Linked DNA regions of Homo sapiens: region 1 is linked to region 2. The links come from fine-mapping of genetic effects on plasma protein levels. A gene starts in region 2. The other region holds a variant in brackets. All regions are shown on one strand. Distances are from middle to middle.

Region 1 (8,571 bases), 25 kb before region 2:
GTGCTGAGCAACTCGTCCAGCTGCAGCGAGGGCGGCCAGGCCCCCTTCTCCGACCTGCAGGGGTAGCGCGGCCTCGGCGCCGGAGACCCGCGCGCTGTCTGGGGCTGCGGTGGCGTGGGGAGGGCGCGGCCCCCGGACGCCCCGAGGAAGGGGCACCTCACCGCCCCCACCCAGAGCGCCTGGCCGTGCGGGCTGCAGAGGACCCCTCCGGGGCAGAGGCAGGTTCCACGGAAGACCCCGGCCCGCTGGGGCTTCCCCGGAGACTCCAGAGCCCACAGAGGAGGGGCCGCAGGGAACAGCCCCGGGCGGCAGGCGCCGGGCAGCGGCATCTCGTCCTGGCTCCACCGTGCTGCTTCTGCCTCTGGACGGTGCTTTCAGGGGACGCGCGGACCGTGGTGGAGCTGCTTCCGGAGAAGTGGAGGATCCTCTGGCCAACGGCCTGAGGAGAGCGGGGCACGGGGTCTCTTTAGCTTTTACAAGTTTTAGGATTTTTTCAAGCAGGGATCAATCCCGTGGCCATTTTTTGTGGTACTTTGGCCTCAATTCTTCACCAGGAATCACTGTGTTTACATGAAATGACAATTTGATACTGTATTTGATAGAAAACTATTTTTTTGTTACCGGGGTTTACATAGAAGCACGTTGTTTATACCACTAAGTGACTTTGGGGGGGCTCTCCCATGGAAACGGATGGCACTCCCTGAAGCTCCCTGGTCACAGGTGGATGAAAACGTGTCCGTGGGTGACATCAGGTGGTGTCTCCACCACCAAAAGCAGTTAGAAGCCAAGGAGATTCCTTTATCTACCTAGGGTTCATTTTCAAAAGAAAATTTAAACTATAATTTAAACAATTAACGTTCTTTTCTACAAAAAAAATGCAGGGACTTGATTTTTTTAAAGAGCTTCACTGAATTAGGATATTTTTATTGCTTTTAAAGAAAATACAAAGATGCAGTTTCTGCAGGGTGTGGCGTGGACCAGTGCTGCCGACCATAGCTCAGAGAGCCCTGCCCCTGCCTCACTGCACTGCAGCCTCCTCGGAGGCCGCACCTCCACTCCACTCCCCACGCGCCCCCTGCCTCCCACCCAGGTCCACCTGCCACCTGGTGACCACCTTGAGTACAGAAGTGAAAGTGGGGAGAGTATTTTATTCAAGTCACAGCAGAACTGGAAAAAAACTCTTCTGTTTTACCAACTTCTTGTGTTTCAGAAACATATTCTGTTCAAAACTTTTGAAGCCCTTTCGGTGTCTAGTCTGCAGATGTTTTTGTATGTGTGCACCTCTGACCATGTGTGTACATATGTGTCTTGCTGGAAAGGACATATTCGCTGTCCCCGTGCTGCTGGGAGGGCCGCCTCACAGCCTCACGGTTCCCAGCCCCAGCACAGTGGAGGCAGGCGTGGCTGCATTCCCCTCACGCTACCCTCCCAGCGGCTTGTAGCCGTCACTGGCCAGACCTCCAGGGTGCGGAATCAAATAGGAAGCATGCAGAGACTCGGCAGCTTTTCCTCTGATGTGTAAGTTATTTGGAACGCGTGCTGTGTCCCGCGATGTCCCTGATGTACTGTGCAGGCGCGGTGCCTCCGTCTCGTCGCACAGCTGCGCGCCCTTGTGTGACCCTCCCCATAAAGGCACTTTACAGCTTCATGTTTCATCCACTGTCACTTTTTTTTAACTGCTGATGTAAATGGAATTTTAAAAGCAGAGTTCTTTATTGTATGGATGACGTTTGAATAAATATCAGCAACTCCTGCCATCTGCCTTTGTCTGTCAAGACACAGAACGTCTCAGCAGTCGGGGTTTCCAGGGCCGCAGTGCACTGTGCTTGCACATGGTAAGTCATTGTTGGGACGGAAAAGAAGCCGGCAGTGGGCAGGGCCCAGCGTGCGGCTCAGGCACCGAGCAACCGCTTTGCTTTCTTCTGTCAGACGGCGATGATGACAAAATAGCAACAAGGTTGTGCGTGTCAGAAACGCAAAGGCAGCAGAGGAAGCGTAGTGGAACCATTACAGAATCACAATGCAGCCGACACTCTCCAGACCAGAAAAGGGAGCATAAAGAAAGGGTATTGATCCAATAGAAGAAGGGAAGGGTGGAGAAAGGGGAAAGCATGGTTAACAGGAAACAACATGTAACGGAAGAGACAGCCCAGATGTGTCTGGCTCACAACAGACGTGATCATGTTATGCTGGCCTGGAAGAGCATCGGATCAGACGTGACAAGTCACTGCTTAGAGACCATCAAGCAAATTTATATATAGATTGGAGATTTAAAATAAAAGAAGACAGAACAGACAAACACCATAAGAAAGCTGGTGTAGCAGTATCGATGACCTGAAATGGGATTCAGGACAGTTCATAGAGTAAAGGGGGCTGCGTGGCAATCAGGAACTCATAAGCCACTGACTATAAAGCTCAAAACACAGCAAAGTTGGCAGTCGGCAGACAGCAATGTTGACTGTCATGAAAAGTGATCCCTGTTTGCCCCTAAACGTAGAGAAATCTGCGTTATTTTCCAGCACACATGGAGCACAAACAAAATATTTGCAAAACAATGGGAAGATCATTGAAACACTGTTTGGCAATTTAAAAGCTTGTTTCTAACTCACGGGATGCGGGCAGTCTGCTCTCTAGAACTGGACAGCGTGCACAGAGCCACGGGAGGGAGCAGCCACGGCCAGCTCAGATTGGTGTCGACAGCTTAGTGGTGTCTGATTTTATACATGACAAAATGAACGAGTTAACCATTTAAGCCAAAAAAATAAGACTAGCGTAACCCAAAGAAAGTATTTAAATACTTCTGTCAATTAGGACAGTTGAGAAAAGAGAATAACAAAATCAAAAGCAAAACTCAAACTTTGTACCTGAAAAATCTAATAAAACTGACTAATTTATAGAAAACCTAAGAAACTCCATATCAAATAAAAAATTTTAAATATGAGAGAACCATTATGAACACCTTTCTGCCAATATATTTGAAAACAGATAAATAGGATTTATTGTTAGAATTGGTCAAGAAGAAATGAAATACTTGGGTTGATGAATAACAGTTACAGAAATTGCATTGCAATTAAAAAAAAAATTACCCCAAACAGATACCAGATCTAGGTGATTTTGTAAGCATACAAACATATTTATAAAAGCTATTTAAAAGAATATAACAAGAGAAAGCAACTCAATAAAGTTATGAATCAAATTTAACCTTGGTACCCAAACCTGACAAAGATTATGTAAGAAAAGAATCAGCTGGGCCAGGTGGCTCACATCTGTTCTTCTAGTACTTTGGGAGGCCGAGGTGGGAGAGTTGTCTGAGACCAGGAGTTTGAGACCAGCCTGGGCAACATTGCAAGACACCATCTCTACATGAAATTTAAAAATTAGCCGGGCATGGTGGCACATACCTGTAGTCCCAGCTACTTGGGAAGCTGAGACCTTACAAGTGAGCCCAGGAGTCCAAGGCTGCAGTGAGCTATGATGATCATGCCACTGCACTCCAGCCTGGGCAACAGAGCAAGACCCTGTCTCTCAAAATCAACCAAACAAAAAGACAATGTAAGAAAAAATAAAATTATGAAGATGAATGCAAAAATTCCAAATGAAATATAATTAAGTAAAACCCAATTCTGTGTTATAAATAAAGGTAATACTTTCTAAGCAAGTAAATTCATCCCAGGAATGCAAGGGGTAGTATGTTAATGTGGCTATAATTTGCCATATTAATGAAGTGAAGGGTAAAATCACCAGCTTAACAAATGCAAAACAATAATTCAATTTTTATTCAACATGTACTTGTCATGTTAGGCCAACTAGGAGTAGAAGAAAATTTCTTTAACTAAATAATATGTATCAAACAAAATCTTTGCAGCGAACTTTTTTT[T/G]TTTGTTTGTTTGTTTGTTTGTTTTCTGAGACGGAGTCTCGCTCTGTCGCCCAGGCTGGAGTGCAGTGGCGCGATCTCGGCTCACTGCAAGCTCCGCCTCCCGGGTTCACACCACTCTCCTGCCTCAGCCTCCCGAGGAGCTGGGACTACAGGCGCCCGCCACCACGCCCGGCTCATTTTTTGTATTTTTAGTAGAGACGGGGTTTCACTGCGTTAGCCGGGATGGTCTCGATCTCCTGACCTCGTGATCTCCCACCTCAGCCTCCCAAAGTGCTGGGATTACAGGCGTGAGCCACCGCGCCCGGCTGCAGCAAAAATTTTAAGTACTGAAATCCTTTAGAACCATCCCCATTGGCAGCAGAACTGAACGGGGCCCCACTACTCTCCAGCGCCATTTAGCCGCAGTACTAGTGACTACCACCGCAAAGGAAAAGGAAACAAGGCCAGCGCGGCGGCTCAGGCCTGTCATCCCAGCACTTTGGGAGGCCGAGGCGGCAGATCACGAGGTCAGGAGATCGAGACCATCCTGGCTAACACGGTGAAACCCCGTCTCTATTAAAAATACAAAATTAGCCGGGCGTGGTGGTGCATGCCTGTAATCCCAGCTACTCGGGAGGCTGAGACGGGAGAATCGCCTGATCCCAGGAGGCAGAGGTTGCCGTGAGCCGAGATGTCGCCATTGCACTCCAGCCTGGGCAACAAGAGTGAAACTCCATCTCAAAAAAAGAAAAAAAGAAAAAGGAACCAAGGCATGCTAATTGAAAAATAACTTTTCATATCTAGAAAAACCAGGTGAATTCATAAACTATTGAAACTAAGAAGTCCACAAGATCAACCCACAAAAAGTTATTAACATTCCTAGCAATAACAATACTATTTTAACAGCAACCTAAATACTAAAATAAATGTAACAAAAGTTTTGGACAAAATTATGAAACATGATAGAAGGTCATAAAAGAAGGCCTAAATGGGAGATTTTTATGGATGGGACAATTCAGTATCACCAAAGTGTTAACTCTCCCCCAAGTTAATCTGTGTATTTCATCAAAATTCCAACAGAATTCTTTGTGGAATTAGGAAGTTGATTGTAATAAACATAGAAGATAAAGGTCTGAGTATAGCCGTGGTGATTCGGGGAGCAGAGGCAGGAGGAGGAGGGCTCACCTACCAGGCATCTGGATAGATCATAAACCTGTCATCAGTCGTGACAAGGGGGAGAGAGGCTAAACTGGTCGAGCAGAATTCAGATTCCCAGGCAGGGATGTGTGCAGGGACCTGGCTTGTCCTGGGGCTGGTCAATCTTTGGCACGGAATGGCCTCTTCAGGAACGGGTGTTATTGGGACAGCTGCCTTTCCATGTGGATGATGGCATAAAAGTATAGCCCCCCCAAACTTAAGATTAAAACATTATTATGAGGAAACAGAATATTCTTATTGCCTAGGGCAAGGATAGATTTCTTACAAAAGACAAGCTACACTTTAAGAGATGGACAAAAAGATAAGATGGACAATCTGAGCACATCCCATGGTGAATTTCTCTCCACGCTAAGACCCCAGACAAGGGTGAAAAGCAGGACCAAGGCCCAGAGAAGAAAAATTCTGCTCAAAATCATAACTGTTCAACCTTGCATACATTCTCTCTCTTAAACTGAAAGTTAGCATCCTACAGCACTGGTGTGACACCCGGCAGGCCCGAGGGCTCAGCTGCCTCCAGCTGTGGCCCCAAGAAGGCAAAGCACCCGGGTGGGGTGGAGGGAGCAGCCCCGTGCTCTACTGGCTGACAGTGGTGCCCAGGCCCAGCTCCCTTCTCTGCACAGACAGCAGAGTTCCGCTTAGCACAGGCTTTTCCTCGCCAGTGCACACACTGTCAGCCATTGGAACTGGCCTGCAAGACAGCTTGCTGTGGCGGCTTTGCAGGCACAGGGCACACAGGCATCCGTGCACGCAGCTCCTCTGTCCTCCCATGCCCTGCACCCTCCGTCACAAGGAAACCCTTGCTTCTAGGATTGCACCAAATAGGATTTGGAACCAATTGGTGCCCAAGCTCAAATCCTGTTAGTGGCTGCCTGTTTCCCTGGCATACATGCGTCCTGCCGAGATGCATTTGGCACCAGGTGGGATGTGCTCACTGGTTCCCAAAACGAGAACACATAGCAGTTTCCCTGGATGTTTGTTCAATACTATTCCCGGGACCTGCCCGTAGATTCCAATTCCTTATGGGTGTGGAAGAGCCTGGAAATCACGTGTGTGTAGGTGTGTGGCATGTGTATAGGGGTGTGTTTATGTGGTGTGACTTTGGGGTATGAGTGTGGCATGTGTACGGTGTGTGTGAGTGTGGTATGTGTATGGCGTGAGTTTGGGTTGTGCGAGCGTGGTTCTCATGTACGAGTGTGAGCATGGAGATTCTTTGGTAGGGAAGGAGTCAGGGTCTCCCTCTGTCGCCCAGGCTTGAGTGCAGTGGCACAATCTCAGCTCATTGCAACCTCTGCCTCCCGGGTTCTCTGTCTCTGGGACCACAGGCATGAACCACCAAGCCCAGCTAATTTTTTTATTTTTTGTCTAGCTTTGGTCTTGCTATGTTGCCCAGGTTGGTCTGGAACTCCTTTCCTCAAGCGATCCTCAGTCCTCAGCCTCCCAAAGTGCTGGGATTACAGGCATGAGCCACCACCCAAGAGATTCTGATGTCACAGACATCTGACTCACACACTCCCTGGACAGCTCACGTGTGCCCACCACCACAGTCAGGGATGGCTGCAGATGAACAAGGTGCTGACGTGGTTTCTGTAGCCCCCAAACAAGCAACTTGCCTTGAGATGACAACCAAAGTTTTCCTGTGTCCTCCACACTCAAGAGTGACTGTGAGGCGGAGGGGCCCAGCCCTTCTTGCAGGCGGGAATGAGTGGATGGGTGGATCAACAGAGGCTGCCACAGGAGAGAGGGAGGCCTGGCCTGGGAACAGAGCTGTGACCGTGCCCTTCCCCAGGGTAGGGGCTGAAGGACCCTCCCATCCTAGTGACAGGGCCACAGCATGTCCAAGGAGGCCCCAGAGGAGGTCCCGGGAGTCCTGGGAGAGCCTGGTTAGCCTCCCTGAAGGGAGGAAGTGGGGTTTTGTGAGAGGGATGGTGCAGCAGCCCCCACACCTGCTACTCCGTGTGGCCGGGTCCAGCCCCAGGCAAGGTTCCAGGCATGCCCCTGGGACAGACGTGGGAGGGAGACCAGCAGGCAGGTCCCCCTCAGGGAGGTATGGAGCGGGTCCCCGGGGCCAGGTGGAGCCCCTCACACCTGTGTCCTCAAGGACCCACACCAGGACAATGGCCATAGGCGGGCACCTGCAGCCGCCCTGGCCAGCAGTGAGACGGGCAGAGAGCCCAGCCAGATAGCCCGGTTCCTGCCCCCTCCCGCCTGCCCGCACAGAGAGGGCTGCATGCAGGTGAGGGTCCATCACCTGAAGAGCTTCACCAGCCCCGAGGCCATGAGCCACTGAATCTCTCAGGGGGTTTTGGCGCTTGAGGTTCCCCAGGTCATTCTGCTGCCCAGAGAGGGTTGAGGACCTCTGACCTGGAGCCCCAAAGGGGAAGGGTACCCTAAGACCAGCCAGCCATCTACTCTCAGGTGGGAAAGGGGTAGGGTTTAGATATGGCCCCCTCCCCTCCACGTCCTGAAATTACCTTGGGCTGTGCTGGCCGAGAGCCGCGGGGACCAGATTTGAGCTGGACGTGAGCTTTATTCCAGACGGAGCAGCTACTTTGTAAGCGATCTCCCTGGGATCGATATCATGGAGGGGCACAGATGGGCTTCAGCTGTGCTGGGTGGAAGAGAAAACATGCCCTGTCGGCCCCTCAGCAAGTGCTCTGCTCTCTGGACTGAGATGCAGGTCAGCAGCAAGCAGGGAGGCTTTGGGGGTGCTGGGGGCTGCTTTGAAAGGCACCCCTGAGCTAAGACTTGGCTGTTGGGAAGGAATCACCTCCCTCCCTCCAGCCGTAAAAAGAACTGGACATCAGCTTCCAAAGAAGTCATCAGCAATGCAACTGTTCACATGGAGGATACTCCCTGCTTGAGGGGTCAGACAGGCCTGCTGGGCAACCCAGGAGGCTTGGATGACCGTCTACCCCAGTGTTTTTGGGATGGAAAGTTCCACATTCTGAGAACCCTCAGTCCCTGGGCAACCTGGGGTGGTTAGTCACCACAGCTTGTGGCTTGGGCCCATGACAGCAGGTAGAAATGACGTGGACTGCCGCCAGCCGGGCACAGTGGCTCACGCCTGTAATCCCAGCACTTTGGGAGGCTGAGGCATGTGGATCACTTGAGGTCAGGAGTTCGAAACCAGCCTGGTCAACACGGTGAAACCCCATCTCTGCTAAAAAAAAAAAATATATATATATAAATTAGCCAGGCATGGTGACGTGCACCTGTGGTCCCAGCTACTCAGGAGGCTGAGGCACAAGAATCACTTGAACCCGGGAGGTGGAGGTTGCAGTGAGATTGCACCAGTGCACTCTCCAGCCTGGCAACAGAGCAAGACTCTGTCTCAAACAAACAAAACAAAACAAACAAAAAGACGTAAGATGTGGACCGCTGGAGAATGGGGGTGCTGCCTGCAGTCAAAACGGAGTGGGGGTGCCCAGCTCAGGGCCAGAATGATCCTATTCCCGGCACTTCTCAGTGAGGCTCTGTGGCTCACCTAAGAAACCAGC
Region 2 (14,387 bases):
AGACAGAAACAGAGAGAGACAGAGACAGAGAGAGACTGAGGGAGAGACTCTGAGGACATGGAGAGAGACTCAAAGAGACTCCAAGATTCAAAGAGACTAATAGAGACACAGAGATGGAATAGAAAAGATGAGAGGCAGAGGCAGACAGGCGCTGGACAGAGGGGCAGGGGAGTGCCAAGGTTGTCCTGGAGGCAGACAGCCCAGCTGAGCCTCCTTACCTCCCTTCAGCCAAGCCCACCTGCACGTGATCTGCTGGCCTCAGGCTGCTGCTCTGCCTTCATTGCTGGAGACAGTAGAGGCATGAACACACATGGATGCACACACACACACGCCAATGCACACACACAGAGATATGCACACACACGGATGCACACACAGATGGTCACACAGAGATACGCAAACACACCGATGCACACGCACATAGAGATATGCACACACAGATGCACACACAGATATACACATGGATGCACGCACATGCCAATGCACGCACACATCAGTGCACACGGATGCACAGAGATATGCACACACCGATGTGCGCACACACAGATATGCACACACATGGATGAGCACACACACACCAATGCGCACACACACCGATGTACACACACAGATGCACACACAGATGCACACACACCGATGCTGACTCCATGTGTGCTGTCCTCTGAAGGCGGTTGTTTAGCTCTCACTTTTCTGGTTCTTATCCATTATCATCTTCACTTCAGACAATTCAGAAGCATCACCATGCATGGTGGCGAATGCCCCCAAACTCTCCCCCAAATGTATTTCTCCCTTCGCTGGGTGCCGGGCTGCACAGACTATTCCCCACCTGCTTCCCAGCTTCACAATAAACGGCTGCGTCTCCTCCGCACACCTGTGGTGCCTGCCACCCACTGGGTTGCCCATGATTCATTTTTGGAGCCCCCGGTGCTCATCCTCTGAGATGCTCTTTTCTTTCACAATTTTCAACATCACTGAAATGAACCCTCACATGGAAGCTATTTTTTAAAAACAAAAGCTGTTTGATAGATGTTTGAGGCTGTAGCTCCCAGGATCCTGTGGAATTGGATGTTCTCTCCCTGCCACAGCCCTTGTCAATGATATTTCACAGAGACCCTGGGAGCACCTGCTCAAGAGTCAGGGACACACGCATCACTAAATGCAAGTTCCCAGGCCCTGGCTGCAGTGGGAGGACCTGGCAAGCTGCACTCTTGCTGAGTCCCCAGGGTGGTGGAAGAAGAATGAGAAACACATGAACAGAGAAATGGGGAGGTGACAAACAGTGCCCCCACTCAGACTCCGGCAAGCACGGCTCAGAGAGTGGACTCGATGCCATCCCTGCAGGGCCGTCCTGGGCACCACTGGCACTCACAGCAGCAAGGTGGGCACCATTGGCACTCACAGCAGCAAGGCAGGCACCAGCAACCCACCTCGGGGGCACTCAGGCATCATCTACTTCAGAGCAGACAGGGTCTATGAACTACAGCCGTGGGCTGCTTCCAAGGCACCCTGCTCTTGTAAATAAAGTTTTATGGGAACACACCCATATTAGTGTCCATGGAGTGGCCGTGGCAGAGACGTCCAGCCGGACAGACCAGCTGACCCGCCAAGCCCAGCATGGTTAGTGTCAGGACCTCTGCTGAAGATGCTTGCTGACCCTGGCCAGACCCCGGTTCCTAATGCCCCCTAAACGGGACGGGAGCCAGTGGCGGGCCCTGATCCAGGTCAGAGCTGGCTCTGCTTTCTCTTTTGTCCGAGTGACCATGCCTCAGTTTCCTCATGTGTAAAACAGGAGCCCACCGTGATGCTTATGGTGGGATGAGATCAGCATGGATGGAACAAGGCCCTGGAAGGGCCCATGCCATGGTCATCGACAGCAAAGCCACTCTGCAGACAGATGCTTCAGTGAATTGGTAGAAAATTCTGCAACCAGAATGCCCGGGGCTCCTGAGGGCCTAAGCCCAGCCCAGGGTTCTGGAAGCCACTCTGACTTCTTGGGAGTGGAAGTTGGCAGGACTCTTCCTGGGAAGAAGCGGAGGGTGGGGATGAGAGGACAGTTCAGGAGCCCACCCAGACCCACAGGAGGAAACTAGGGGAGTCATGCGGGGTCCTGGTGGAGCGCCAGCCTCCCTTCCTGCCAATGGGAAATGCAGGCGCCCACCTCATGGTGCTGCCGGAGGAGGGGGCCCGGGACTCCCCAGAGGCTTCGCTGAAGGGCCTGGGCGCCCCCAAAGGCTACATGTTTCATATGGGACGTGCCACCTGCCACGGCTCAGCTCCAGCTTTCTGTGAGTGGCGAGATAGAATACGGGGAGGCCACTGGCCATGGGCCTGGGACAGGGTGGGATGAGGCGGCAGGCTTGGGCCACCAAAGCCAGCATCGCCACCCAGCATTGATGACAAAGACTGCGTGTCTGCCATGAGCATCCTGCTGTTGGTGCACACACCGCATTGGTCTCTCCATACAAACATGCCTAGAGGCGATGTCAGAGGGTGGAGACCAGGAGAGGCAGGAGTCAGACATCTGGTGCCACCAGGAAGGCCCTTCTCAGAGGACCAGGCTGTGCGTGGTGCCCGCCGTGGGAGGCCAGCCTGGCGTTGGCATCCAGCATCATCAGTTTGTGCAGTCGGGTGGGGCTCAGTGAGTGCCTCCTGTGTGCCAGGCACAATGACGCACAATGTGTGCACACCAGGCTCATGTGCAGGTGGCTGCGAGACAGGGCGACCCATCAAGGCAGATGCACCATGAGGCAGTGGCCAGTGCTGTGGGTGTTAGGGGCATTGCTCCCCGGCCACTACGGCATAGCAGGCAGTGATCGCCACACTGGCCAAGCTTTAGACCATTTATTCCAGAGACCCCAGAGGCAAAAAGCCCGGCTGCACCTCCCAGTGACTCCCACAGCCATTGAGCAGAGACACTCAGGACCTTGTGATGGGAGGTTTCTGCACTGGAGAACGAGCCCAGAAGCCCTCTCAGCCTCGGAACAGTGTGGCCAGTGGTGGGCAGGTCAGGAGGGGCTTCAGACACAGCCTGTCCCTCCAGATGGTCACGGGAAGGTCACTCCCCACAGAAGTACGTTTTGGGGCCATGCGGGCACAGAAGGTTTGGGGGTGGGTGGGGCAGGTGCCAGCCTGGCCTGTGGGAGGCCATGGTGCAGATGCCAAGCCCCCCCCGTGACATGAGACCACCTGATACCACCCAGAGAGTGGCTGTGAGCGGAAGGGCCCGCCCAGAAACAAGCAGGGCCTTGGGGCAGAAGTCCTGGGCTCAGATCCCACGCTCACTGCCAGCGGCCTCGGCTCAGGCTTCTGCGCTCTCTAAACTTAGTTTTCTCTTCTGGAAAAATGATGGGGAAAATGATATTTGTATGTGAGGACTGAGAGTTAAATGTAAACATCTGGAAACTACAAAATGAGCACGAAATGATGTTTTTATTCTTAGAACAGAAAGTCCCCACACCCGCGGCCCTGGTGACTGATGAGGATGAGGTTCTGCGGGGCCTCTCTGGCCGCCCAGCTCTGCCTGGGGAAGGTGGGGCCAGAGTGGATGTGTTCCCAGCGTGGTCACTCCCCTGCCTCGCCAGCAGGTCTCGGCTCCAATCAGGAGGCCTAAGCCAAGTGATAAGCAGCCAGACAACAGCCATCCCAGCTGGGGCGTGGACTTTGCTCCAGCAGCCTGTCCCAGTGAGGACAGGGACACAGTACTCGGCCACACCATGGGGCGCCCACTGCACCTCGTCCTGCTCAGTGCCTCCCTGGCTGGCCTCCTGCTGCTCGGGGAAAGTCGTAAGTGCCCCTCGCCCTTCAGACCCAAAAGCAGCGCCAGGGAGCAGGGAGGGGCGGCAGTTGGGGAAACCCTCTCATCTCTGCAGCCTGGACGGTGGGTGCCTTGAGTGCTGCCAGAGGCTGGGCTCGGATGGCTGGGCTTGGCCTTTCCAGCCAACGGCATCCTCAAGGCCAGCTGTGGCTCCCTGGGGCTGAGAGTCAGACGGGCGGATCAGAGGTCACAGAGACAAAAACACAAGGACAGAGTCAGAGAGAGAAAGGGAGAGGGAAGGAGAAACGGAGACACAGTGAGATGGGAGGCCAAGAGGCAGAGACAGAGGTAGAAAGACGGAGACAGAGAGAGAGGGAGGGGTTGGGGCAGGCAGAGACAGGACAGTTAGCCATCTGCCACCACAGGGAGGCACAGGACGAGGGGCACAGCAGAGGAGCTCCCAGGGAGGAGGAGGCTGAGCCGAGCCAGTGCCACCACTCTCGGACTGGCTCCGTCGGGGAAGGAGCTGCCTAATGCACAGCTGGACAGGTGGGGGCAGCAGGGCTGTCCAGGACCCCCGGGTCTGTCCAAAAGCAGAGGCCCAGACAGGACAGAAGCCAGGCAAGCCTGGGGACAGCGGAGGAAGAGGAGGCCCCTCTGGTGGGGACACGAGAGACAGGGACCCTAGACTTGTTTGCATCCTGGACAAAGTGGACAGGCAGGGGCACCAAGGGGACCCAGGCCTGGGAAGGGAATGTGTGAGGGAGAGACGGAGCAGGGGGAGACCCTCGTGGGGTGGAAAGGGGAGACCCCTGGGAAGGCTGAGTGGATCCTCAGTGCATCACTGACCTAAACGGCCCCTCCGCCTGGTGACTTGGAGCTCCAGTCACATCACACGGGGGTCTTCTCCATCCCACCCTCAACCCCCTGCCCTCCCCAGCCTCTGTCCCCTGAGCCACATCTTCCTGTCTCCCACGCGGAACGGGACTCCCGTCTTCATGGGGTACTGTGTGGCTCCAACTCGCCCAGCCTTCTTCCTCCCCCTCAGGCCACACTGCCCCCTGCAGGAGCCCACTGTGATGCTTGTGGTGGGATGAGATCAGCGTGGGTGGAACAAGGCCCTGGAAGGACCCATGCCATCATCATCGACAGCAAAGCTACTCTGCAAACAGACAGATGCTTCCGCGAATTGGTAGAAAATTCTGCAGCCGGAATGCTCTAGGATCCTGAGGCCCTAAGCCCGGCCCGGGGCTCCCGAGGCCCTAAGCCCGGCCCGGGACTCTGGAAGCTGCTCTGGCTTATTGGGAATGGAAGTTGGCAGGACTCCTCTTCCTGGGAAGAAGCAGAGGGTGGGGATGAGAAGACAGGCCAGGAGCCCACCCAGACCCACAGGAGGAAACTAGGGGAGTTATGCAGAGTCCTGGTGGAGCGCCAGCTTCCCTTCCTGCCAATGGGAAATGCAGGCGCCCACCTCGCGGACCTCTGGGTCCACAGGGTATTGGCACCCTTAGCTGTGTGATGCGGGCCTGGCTCATAACCATGGCCTGTGGTGTCCCCGGGGGCCGGCCTGGACCCTGGGTGGACATGGCCAGCCCCGGAGAGCCAGGGCCAGGCCATCTCTCTCCCCTACTCTGCCTCAGAGGCCTCGGCAGCTGCACTGTGGGGTGGGTGGGGCTGAACACAGGTCCCAGAAGGTCCCACTCAGGACCCTGCTGTGCACACTTTTGATTTTAATAAAATCAGAATGCGCACAGCATCTGCAGTCTAGCCTTTAAACGAGCACAGCTGTCCTGGCAGTCACGGAAGTTCTTCTGGGGCGGTGGGACCTCAGCATTCCTTTGCTGGTACTGCTACAAGAAAGGACAATGGACCAAGTAGCTTAAAGCAACAGAAACATTTCTCCCACAGCTCTGGAGGCTGGAAGTTCAAAATCAAGGCGTCAGCGGGGCTGGTTCCTCCAGAGGCTGGGAGAGAGTCTGCTCTAGGCCTGTTTCCTGGCCTCGGGGTGCCAGCGGCCTCACAGCCCATGGCTTGTGGGAGCATTGCTCCCATCGCTGCCTCCATCATCGCATGGGGTTCTCACCATGGCTGTTTTTCTGTCTTCTTTTCTCTCAGAAGGACACCAGTCATTGGATTTAGGGCTCACTCTACTCCCATAAAATGTCTTCCTAACTAAATACATCACAAAAGTTCTATTTCCAATTAAGGTCAGGTTCTGAGGTTCTGGGAAAGACATGAATTTGGAGGGACATTATTCAGCCCTGTCCTGCCACCTGTGAGTGTTTTCTGCAATCCAACTTTTTATTTTAATAAAATCAGAATACGCAGAGCACCTGCAGTGCCAGCCTTTAAACTACTGCTGTTGTACTGGCAATCATTAAAGCTACGTGGCTTCAGTTTCAATCTTTACATTCAACAAGTTTAAACCCATTCTTCATGAGTTTGGACCTTACTGACTGAAAATTTTGCTTGCTGGTAAAACTTGCTCAAATGCAGTTGCTGACTGTGGAATTCACTGATGTTGCCAAAACAACAAACACAACTGTGTGCTCGAGGATTGCAATGCTCCCAACAGCTTCTGAAGAAACAAACCACACGACAAATGTCTACCAATCTGGATGCTCCATATCAGAGTTCTAGAGTGTTCCATTAATTTCTTGAGACAAGTGCCTAAAAACCTTGTTTTAATTTCGTTTTGCCAAAATCCCATTTTACTCACATCAGAAAGTGTGGCCACGTGGCCCAGACCCGGCCTGCTCAGTCTGACTGAAGCGTTGATGCGACTCAGCCATAACAGATAGCAGAAGCGCCCAGATTCAGTCCAGAGGGCTGAGCCAGGCACGCCATCTTTCCTTCATTCCCTCAACACATATTGGTTAAGTTCCGGCCGTGCTAGGCACGGGCATACAGCTGTGACCAAACACGTCAAGTCTTTTTCCAGCGGAGGGAAGGATAAGCCTGTCAGCATGTAATGTCAGAGAGGGGTTGGGTGCTAGAAGACAAATAGCACAGTGTAAGGGGATGAAAGAGACACGAGTGGGGGCAACGTCAGAGGGCGTGGTCAGGGAGGGTGTCTCGGAGGGCGCTGGGCCTGAGCCACTTGGGTATCTGTGGAAAGAATGTTCCAGACAGGGAGGTGACTGGTGCAAAAGTCCTGGGGTGTGAGTGTTGGGCTCAGCCAGGGTCAGCGCAGAGCCCAGTGTGGCAGAGAGAGGTGAATGAGGGCAGAGTTGAAGGTGGTGAGGCCTGGGAGGCCTGGCCATGGGAAGACCCTGGGCTCTGTTCTAAGACCACTAGAGGCAGATTCTGGGTAGTCCTTGACTTCCTTGCATCACCCTTTCCACCCCGTGCCTGCCACCTGTACCCTCTTCCTCACACAGTCCAGCTCAACCTTATAGGCCGTGTCCTACCCCCATGAGCTGGGGAGAGCTGAGCAGGCTTCAGGGAGATGGGAAAAGGCGGGAACTGGACAGGGGCTGCAAAGGAAAGGTGACTTCTTACTGGTCAATCAGCCTGGGGATGCTCGGGGGTGGATGCCAAGGGGAACAGAGCTGTGGCCGCTATCACAGAACAGCGAGTTCCTCTAAGAGGTCAGAGGAGGCGCAAGGGATCGACCAGAGACAGTGAGGGCGTCAGGCTCCAGTTGAGTGGGGACCAATCCTTGTGGCAAGTCTGTGAACCATCACTGTGGCTCTAGGGTAGCAGAGAAAAAAGCAGGCATATGTCCATCTGGCCACAAGGAAGGAGACCAAGGGGAAGAGAGAAGGTACCAAGAGAGGTGTTCACATGGAGGTGCGTCAGAACACCGAGGGCAAGGCAGAACGCGGTCTTCAGACCCCAACTGGAGCCCAGGAGGCCCGCGAGTCCCAGTTTGGGAAACACTAAGCCAGGCTTGGATAACTTGTCTGAGGCTGTGGTCATCCCAACATGAGAGCCAGAGGCCCCAAGGGAGATGGGCATTCCCCACCCCTCAGCTTCCTCAGTGCCTTTTGTGGAGTGGAGGTGACATGAGGCTGCAGGTTGCAGGGAGCCACGTGTGGGCTGCATTTCAGAGCAAGTGTGTGGGAGTGGAGCAGACACGCAGAGTAATGGGGCAGGGTCAAGAAATAATAAATCTAAGTCTAGCGTTGGTGGGATAATGTCGGTGTCACTAAAAGAAATGGGGAATTTGGAAGGTAAAGTAACTGGAGGTAGGAATGAACCCAAGATTTACTAAGCACCTTCTGTATACCAAACTCAACACTAGGAGTTTATACAATCTTTAAAACAGCTCTAAGAGTAGATATTATAATTCCCTTCTGCCAATAATAAATAATAAGTGACTAAGGTGTTTTTGAAGCTCAAGATTGCTTGATTCTGCAGTCTTGTTTTAAATTTTGGACATGGAGAGTTTGGAGTTCTGAGATGAGGGAAGGCATCTGTCATAGTGAGAGAGCTGAAAACATGGAGCTCAGGACAAAAGTCAGTGCTAGAGAGATCAGTTGGAAGAGTTATCTTTATTGTAGTGAGACATTGAATTTTTCAGTGGAAAAAAAGCACAGAAAAAGACTACAGAGGGCCAAGAAAAGAAACTGAGGCTGTCAAAATGAAAAGAGGAGGAGGAGTGGGTGAGAGACAAAGGAGACACAGGCAGAGAGATGTGGACAGCACAGCCCACAGACACACACTCTACAAGGGACACAGACTCTCGGATCCAGGGCATTTTAACCAGCAGATCAAGACTCATTTGCCAGTCATGAAATCAACTCAGTATTTTTTTTTAAAAGAGTAGAATCAAATAGAAAACTTTGTACTAAGTACTGTATTTTAGGAAATACTAATAAATACTATTTCTTGAAAGTTGGCATGTATGTGTGTCCTGGCACTTCATAAATTGTACTATTATAGTTTGTAATTGAAACAGCATCACCAATCCCCACATAACAAAGAGCAGAGACCTTAAAGACGAGTGGGGCCAGGCTGAAGGGGCACAGCTTGAGCCAAAGCACAGAACAGTGGGCTGAAAGCACCCTAGGGAGGGAGAATTCAAGGAAGGGGGCTTGGGTGGCCAGGCTGAGCCAGCGTGAGCATGTGAGGAGGCTGGTGAGCTGATTGGGTGGGATGTGTCTACTTCTCCAGAGAAGGGTGCATGGGTCTAGAGCAGGTGCCTCATGCTGTACCTCATAGAGAACTGGGGGGAGGGGGGAAATGGGCATTTCCCTCCACAGCCCCCAAAGTGCCTGAGGAAAGTGTTGATAAAGAAGCCAAACTCTGTAAAATATTTGAAGAGATTTATTCTGAGCCAAATGTGAGGACCACGACCCATGACACAGCCTTGGAAGGTCCTGAGAACATGTGTCCAAGGTAGTTGGGTCACAGCTTGATTTTATGTATTTTAGGGGGACAGAAGTTACATACAGACACCAATCAATAAGCATAAGTTGTACACTGGTTCGTTCCAGAAAAGGGGAAGGTGGGGGCTTCCAGGTCATAGGTGGCTTCAAAGATATTCTGATTGGCAATCAGTTGAAAGAGTTATTATCTAAAGACCTGGAATAAATGGAAAGGAGTATCTGGGTTAAGATAAGAGGTTGTGGAGACCAAGGTTCTTGTTATGTAGATGAAGACTCATAGGTGGCCACCCTTAGAGGGAATAGATGGCAACTGTTTCCTCTTCAGACCTTTAAAAGGTGCTACACACATGGCCAGGCGCCTTGGCTCATCCTGTAATCCCAGCACTTTGGGAGGCTGAGGCAGGTGGATCACTTAAGGTCAGGAGTTCAAGACCAGCCTGGCCAACATGGTGAAACTCCATCTCTACTAAAAATACAAAAATTAGCCGGGTGTGGTGGTGCTTGCCTGTAGTTTCAGCTACTCGGGAGGCTGAGACAGTAGAATCTCCTCCTGAGGCAGGACAATGGCTTGAACCTGGGAGGCAGATGTTGCAGTGAGCTGAGATTGTGCCATTGCACTCCAGCCTGGATGACAGAGCAAAACACCATCTTAAAGAGAAAAAAAAAAAAAAAAAAAAAAAAAGGTGCTAGACTCTCAGCTCAGAAAAAGACCTGGAATGGTAAGGGGGTTCTCTACAGAATGTGGATTTCCCTGAGATAGCTTTGCAGGGCCATTTCAAAATATGTCAAACAAATACAATTTGGAGTAAAATCATTTATTTTAGGGCCTGCTATATGTCATGTGATCCTATACTAGAGAAGTCAGGTTGGAAACTGGTATCTTATTGCTACAAAGACTCTGTTTGGTCAGCCTCAAGGTCTCTTAACGTGAATGCTGGTCAGCTGTGCCCGAATTCCAAAGGAAGAAATAATGAGGCGTGTGGGACCTGCTTCCCCTCATGGCCTCAACTAGTCTTTCAGGTTCCTATGGAATTCCCTTGGCAGAGAGGACGGGTCCACTCAGTGAGTTGGGGGCTTAGAATTTTATTTTTGGTTTACAAGAGAGTGATCCGCCTTTTGTGATCTGGATATGGCAAGGGACATGGCAGTCAGGGAGCATAGGTGAGGGGGAGCCTGGGTGAGGGTGACCAGAGCTTTTAACCCTGTCCTCCCTGCCTTCCAGTGTTCATCCGCAGGGAGCAGGCCAACAACATCCTGGCGAGGGTCACGAGGGCCAATTCCTTTCTTGAAGAGATGAAGAAAGGACACCTCGAAAGAGAGTGCATGGAAGAGACCTGCTCATACGAAGAGGCCCGCGAGGTCTTTGAGGACAGCGACAAGACGGTAAGGGCTGGGGATAGCCTGGCTGTTGGTAAGGAGCTCAGGCCACAGCGCCCTCGCTGGCCCCGCTGCTCCGTCCATCCAGGGGGGCGGCCTGGAGGAAGGGGCAGCGTGCGCGAAGGCTTTCAGGGGCGGGGCCCAGCAAATCGAGGCCTCGGCGGAGTCCTGCCCACAGGGACATCAGTGCCGCCCCCGCGCTGACTCCTTCCCGGCGAGGACTCAGCGGGGAGGGATGCGCCCAAGTCCCTTGAGGGTCACAGGGCTTCTGCCAGAGTTAAGTTCTATTTAAAAATAAAATGTTAACCTAAAAACCAATAGTCATGGTCTCGGCCAGCGCCTCGCCGAGTTGCAGTGAGCTGAGATCGTGCCCTCCCACGCCCGCAGCCCGCGTCCTGCCTTGGCCTCCGTAGTCGCTGAGAGCCACAGCCTAGAGCGCCAGCGCGCAGGCGCACAACTGACGCCAGGCCACGAACCCAGTACTGCTCCTGCACAGCAGAAGCACTAGCACTGAGGCCGGGCGGCGAACCCGGCACTGCGCCTGCGCAGCAAAAGGACACGCACTGAGGCCAGGCCGCGAACCCAGCACGGTGCCTGCGCAGCAGGAAGACCGGCATCCACACCGGACGACGAACCCAGCATCGCGCCTGCGCAGTAGGAGGAGAGCAATGCCACCAGGCCGCGATTGCGCAGCCGCAGCAGCCCCGCGCGGAAGACGCTACCCTCCTCTCCCCCGAAGAGGCGGGGCTTCGAACGAACCTGGAAATGGCCGAGGGGTCTCGACTTCCTCACCCCAGGCATCAGGAAAGGTGCCTGCAGGACAGGGCTCTGAAGTGGAAGTGGGCGGTGGTGATGCCGAACTGACAAGAATGAGCTGAAGAGAAGAAAGTAGCCGAGAAGGGGGCCAAGCCGGAGCTCAGTGAGCAACAGCTAGGCCAGCCGCGGCTGGTGCCATCAGCCACACCACTAACTGTGGACCCAAATGGAAACTTTGAGGCCCCTTACAGGTCCCCCAGCGCAGGCCACCGCCGAAGGTTACTGGGGAAGACCCCTGCAGCTTCCATGTGGACATTACTCGCTTGCTTCATCCCGGAGTGCAGTCACCTGCAGCCTGGGACCACCTGACTGATGTCACCCTGGAGATCCATGCCAAAAGAGCTGGGGAAAGTTCACCTTCTAATGACCCCTGCGGACCAGGGTGAAGTTACAAGTTATGGCCAGGTCAAGGAATTATAAGTCAATAAATAAACTGCCTCAGGGAGACGTACTCAGAGTCCAGGAAAATCTAGGAAACACCAAGAAGGGCGAGCGCAGCATCAGCCCCTGCAAAATTGCACTGCTGCCTCCTGGCTCACATGTTGCCCCATCCTTACTTTAGCCTCAAAGGCAAGGAGACCCAATATTATTTGAGTACTTGGATTTGATCCTGAGTGACTTTCTGAGAAAGCAGTGTATCATCTGCCCTAAGATCACCACATATATGACAAGGTTTTTGGATGAGTTGAGATTTCTAGACATTGAAACCCTCATGATGAACGTCATCCCGGGTAGCAGGGGCTAAGCCTTTCATCACCTGCTACAACAAGCTGGACATTAACTTGTATTTGAGAATTGCTCCAGGACTCTACCTTCAGATGCTGGTTAGTAGCATTGACTGGATTTATGAAATTGGATGCCAGTTAAGGAATAAGAGAATGTATTTGATTTGCCACCCTATATGGTCTGTGCAGACTGTCATGATCTCATTGAAATCCAAGAAAAGATTATGTCAGGGATGAAGCACATCACAGGTGGTTACAAGGTCACCCACCATCCAGATGGCTCAGAAAGCCAAACCTATGGGTTGACTTCTCCTCACCCTTCTGGAGAATCAGTGTGGTAGAAGAGCTTGAAAAAGTGCTGGGTGTGACGCTGCCAGAAACTAACCTCTTTGGAACTGAAGAAACTCAAAAAATTATTGGTGATATCTATGTAACAAAAGCTTTTGAAAGTCTTCTACCTCAGAACATATTCAGGCGCCTTGATAAACTTGTCAAGGAGTTCCTGAAAGTGACTTACATCAGTCCCACATTTATCTGTTATCACCTGCAGATAATGAGCTCTTTGACCAAATGATCTCTCTAAGAGGGTCTCACTGAGCACTTTGAGCTATTTGTCATGAAGATAGCTGAATGTTTCCATGCAGCAACAGCAGCAGCTGTTGACAAACAAGACAAGGCCAGCAAAGATGATGAGGCCACATTCATAGATGAAAGCTTCCATGCAACCCTGGAATATGGGCTTCCGCCCACAGCTGGTTGGAGCGTGACAATCAAATGTGTTACCATGTTTCTCACAGACTCCCACAACATCAAGGAAATATTTCTGACTCCTGGCATGAAACTTGAAGAAAGAGAATGTAGCAGCCACTAATACAATGGAAAGCGCAACATTGACACGTCTATCTAGAAAATTTTAATTGTCTAAGTTGTGTGACTCAGATATCTTTGCATTTCTGCAAAAGATCAAGGTCTACTCTAATTCTTAATTAAATTAAGAATTCCTTTTTATTACTTGTTAGCAAATAAATGGCTTGTCTCTAACAGAAAAAATTTAGAATTTTCGGAAATATTTTCAAATACTTCTTATATATACATATATTTTTTTCCACTGGTAGAATTTTTCTTTAGTAAAAGTAAATAATGCTGATCCAAGTTTATGTTTCACTCAGCATCGTTTCTCAAACACTCTTCTTTACTTATATATAGCTACCCTATAGCTAAGCTATATTTTATTGTATGATGCATTTACTCTTTTCAGAGTTTGGCCATATAAGTTATTTCTAAATATTGCTATTAGGAAAACACATATGCATGCATTTCTTCTAGATTATCATCTAAGAGTGGCTTCTCCAGAGAGAGACGACTGAATTAAAGGTTATCAACAAGTTCCAATTCCAGATAAGATGAAGAAATCACATTCCACACTGCCTCTCCCACTGAGTGTAGCTCCAAAACATGGATAGAATGCATGTAGCAGCTATTTGACGACCCTAAAAAGTAAATCGCAGTGTATTGCAGAATAAGACTACAATTAGATGTATGATATGATACAACTGGCTGTGAGTTTATCATTTTTTCCTCCAGTCTTCCAGACATCACTTGACCTGAATCTAATGGACATTTATAGGATTCTCAACAATAGCAAAGTACACTTTCCTTCCACATATGGAAAATTCCTCAAGGTAGACTATATCCTGTGTCTTAAAGCATACCTCAATAAAAAGATTGAACTCACATAAAGTATGTTTTCTGACCATAATGGAATTAAAGTAAAAATTACTAACAGAAAAATAACTGGAAACTTCCCTAAGTACTCGGAAATTAAGTCACACATGTATAAATAATCTGTGAGTCAAAGAGAAAATTTTAAGGGGAGTAAGAAAGTATTTTGAGCTGAACAAAAATGAATATGTAACATAAAATCTGTGGGATGCAGCTAAAAAAGCAGTGTTTCAAGGGAAATTTATAGCATTAAATGCTCACATGGGAAAAGAAAGACGGTCTCAAATTGTTTATGTAAGCTTCCACTTTAATAAACTAGAAAAAAAGAAAAAAATAAACCAAAAGGAAATTGAAAAAGCAGAAATCAAAGAAATTTAAAACAAAAATAATAGACAAAATTAATAAGCTGATGAAACTCAAACAAGACTGACAGGAATAAAAACAAACAAACAAAAACAAGAAAAAGGACCTATGTTGGAAATGGAAGAGAGGGGACATCACTACAGAAACTGTAGATGTTAAATGTATAATAAGAAAATACTTTGAACAACTCTGCATATATAAATTTGCATGAGATTTGAACTTGGATGAAATGAGCCTATTCTTCAATACCACAAGCCACCAAAACATACACAAGGTGAAAGAGATACCTGCCAATTC

The links. PIP is the chance, under the fine-mapping model, that this variant and not a neighbour inherited with it causes the effect. Sun 2018 read protein levels with aptamers (SomaScan).
Region 1: its variant is fine-mapped to the plasma level of the F10 protein (Sun 2018, PIP 0.95).

Annotation. Positions count from the first base shown.
Region 1 is chr13:113,096,794-113,105,364 of GRCh38, forward strand. MCF2L (MCF.2 cell line derived transforming sequence like) reads left to right here. Exons shown (of 30, transcript NM_001112732.3): 30 at 1-2,949. The coding sequence ends at 66. Among named protein-coding and RNA genes, the nearest start is that of F7, 4.7 kb to the right of the region's middle. The variant T/G (reference allele first, on the strand shown) is at 3,878.
Region 2 is chr13:113,119,143-113,133,529 of GRCh38, forward strand. It overlaps F10 (coagulation factor X), which reads left to right and starts at 3,657. Exons shown (of 8, transcript NM_000504.4): 1 at 3,657-3,783; 2 at 10,310-10,470. The coding sequence starts at 3,714. It overlaps F7 (coagulation factor VII), which reads left to right. Exons shown (of 8, transcript NM_019616.4): 8 at 1-1,543. F10-AS1 (F10 antisense RNA 1) reads right to left here and starts at 10,904. Exons shown (of 3, transcript NR_126424.1): 1 at 10,864-10,904; 2 at 9,593-9,735; 3 at 9,013-9,283. It also overlaps the pseudogene KARS1P2. RefSeq lists enhancers at 10,082-10,808, 10,809-11,535.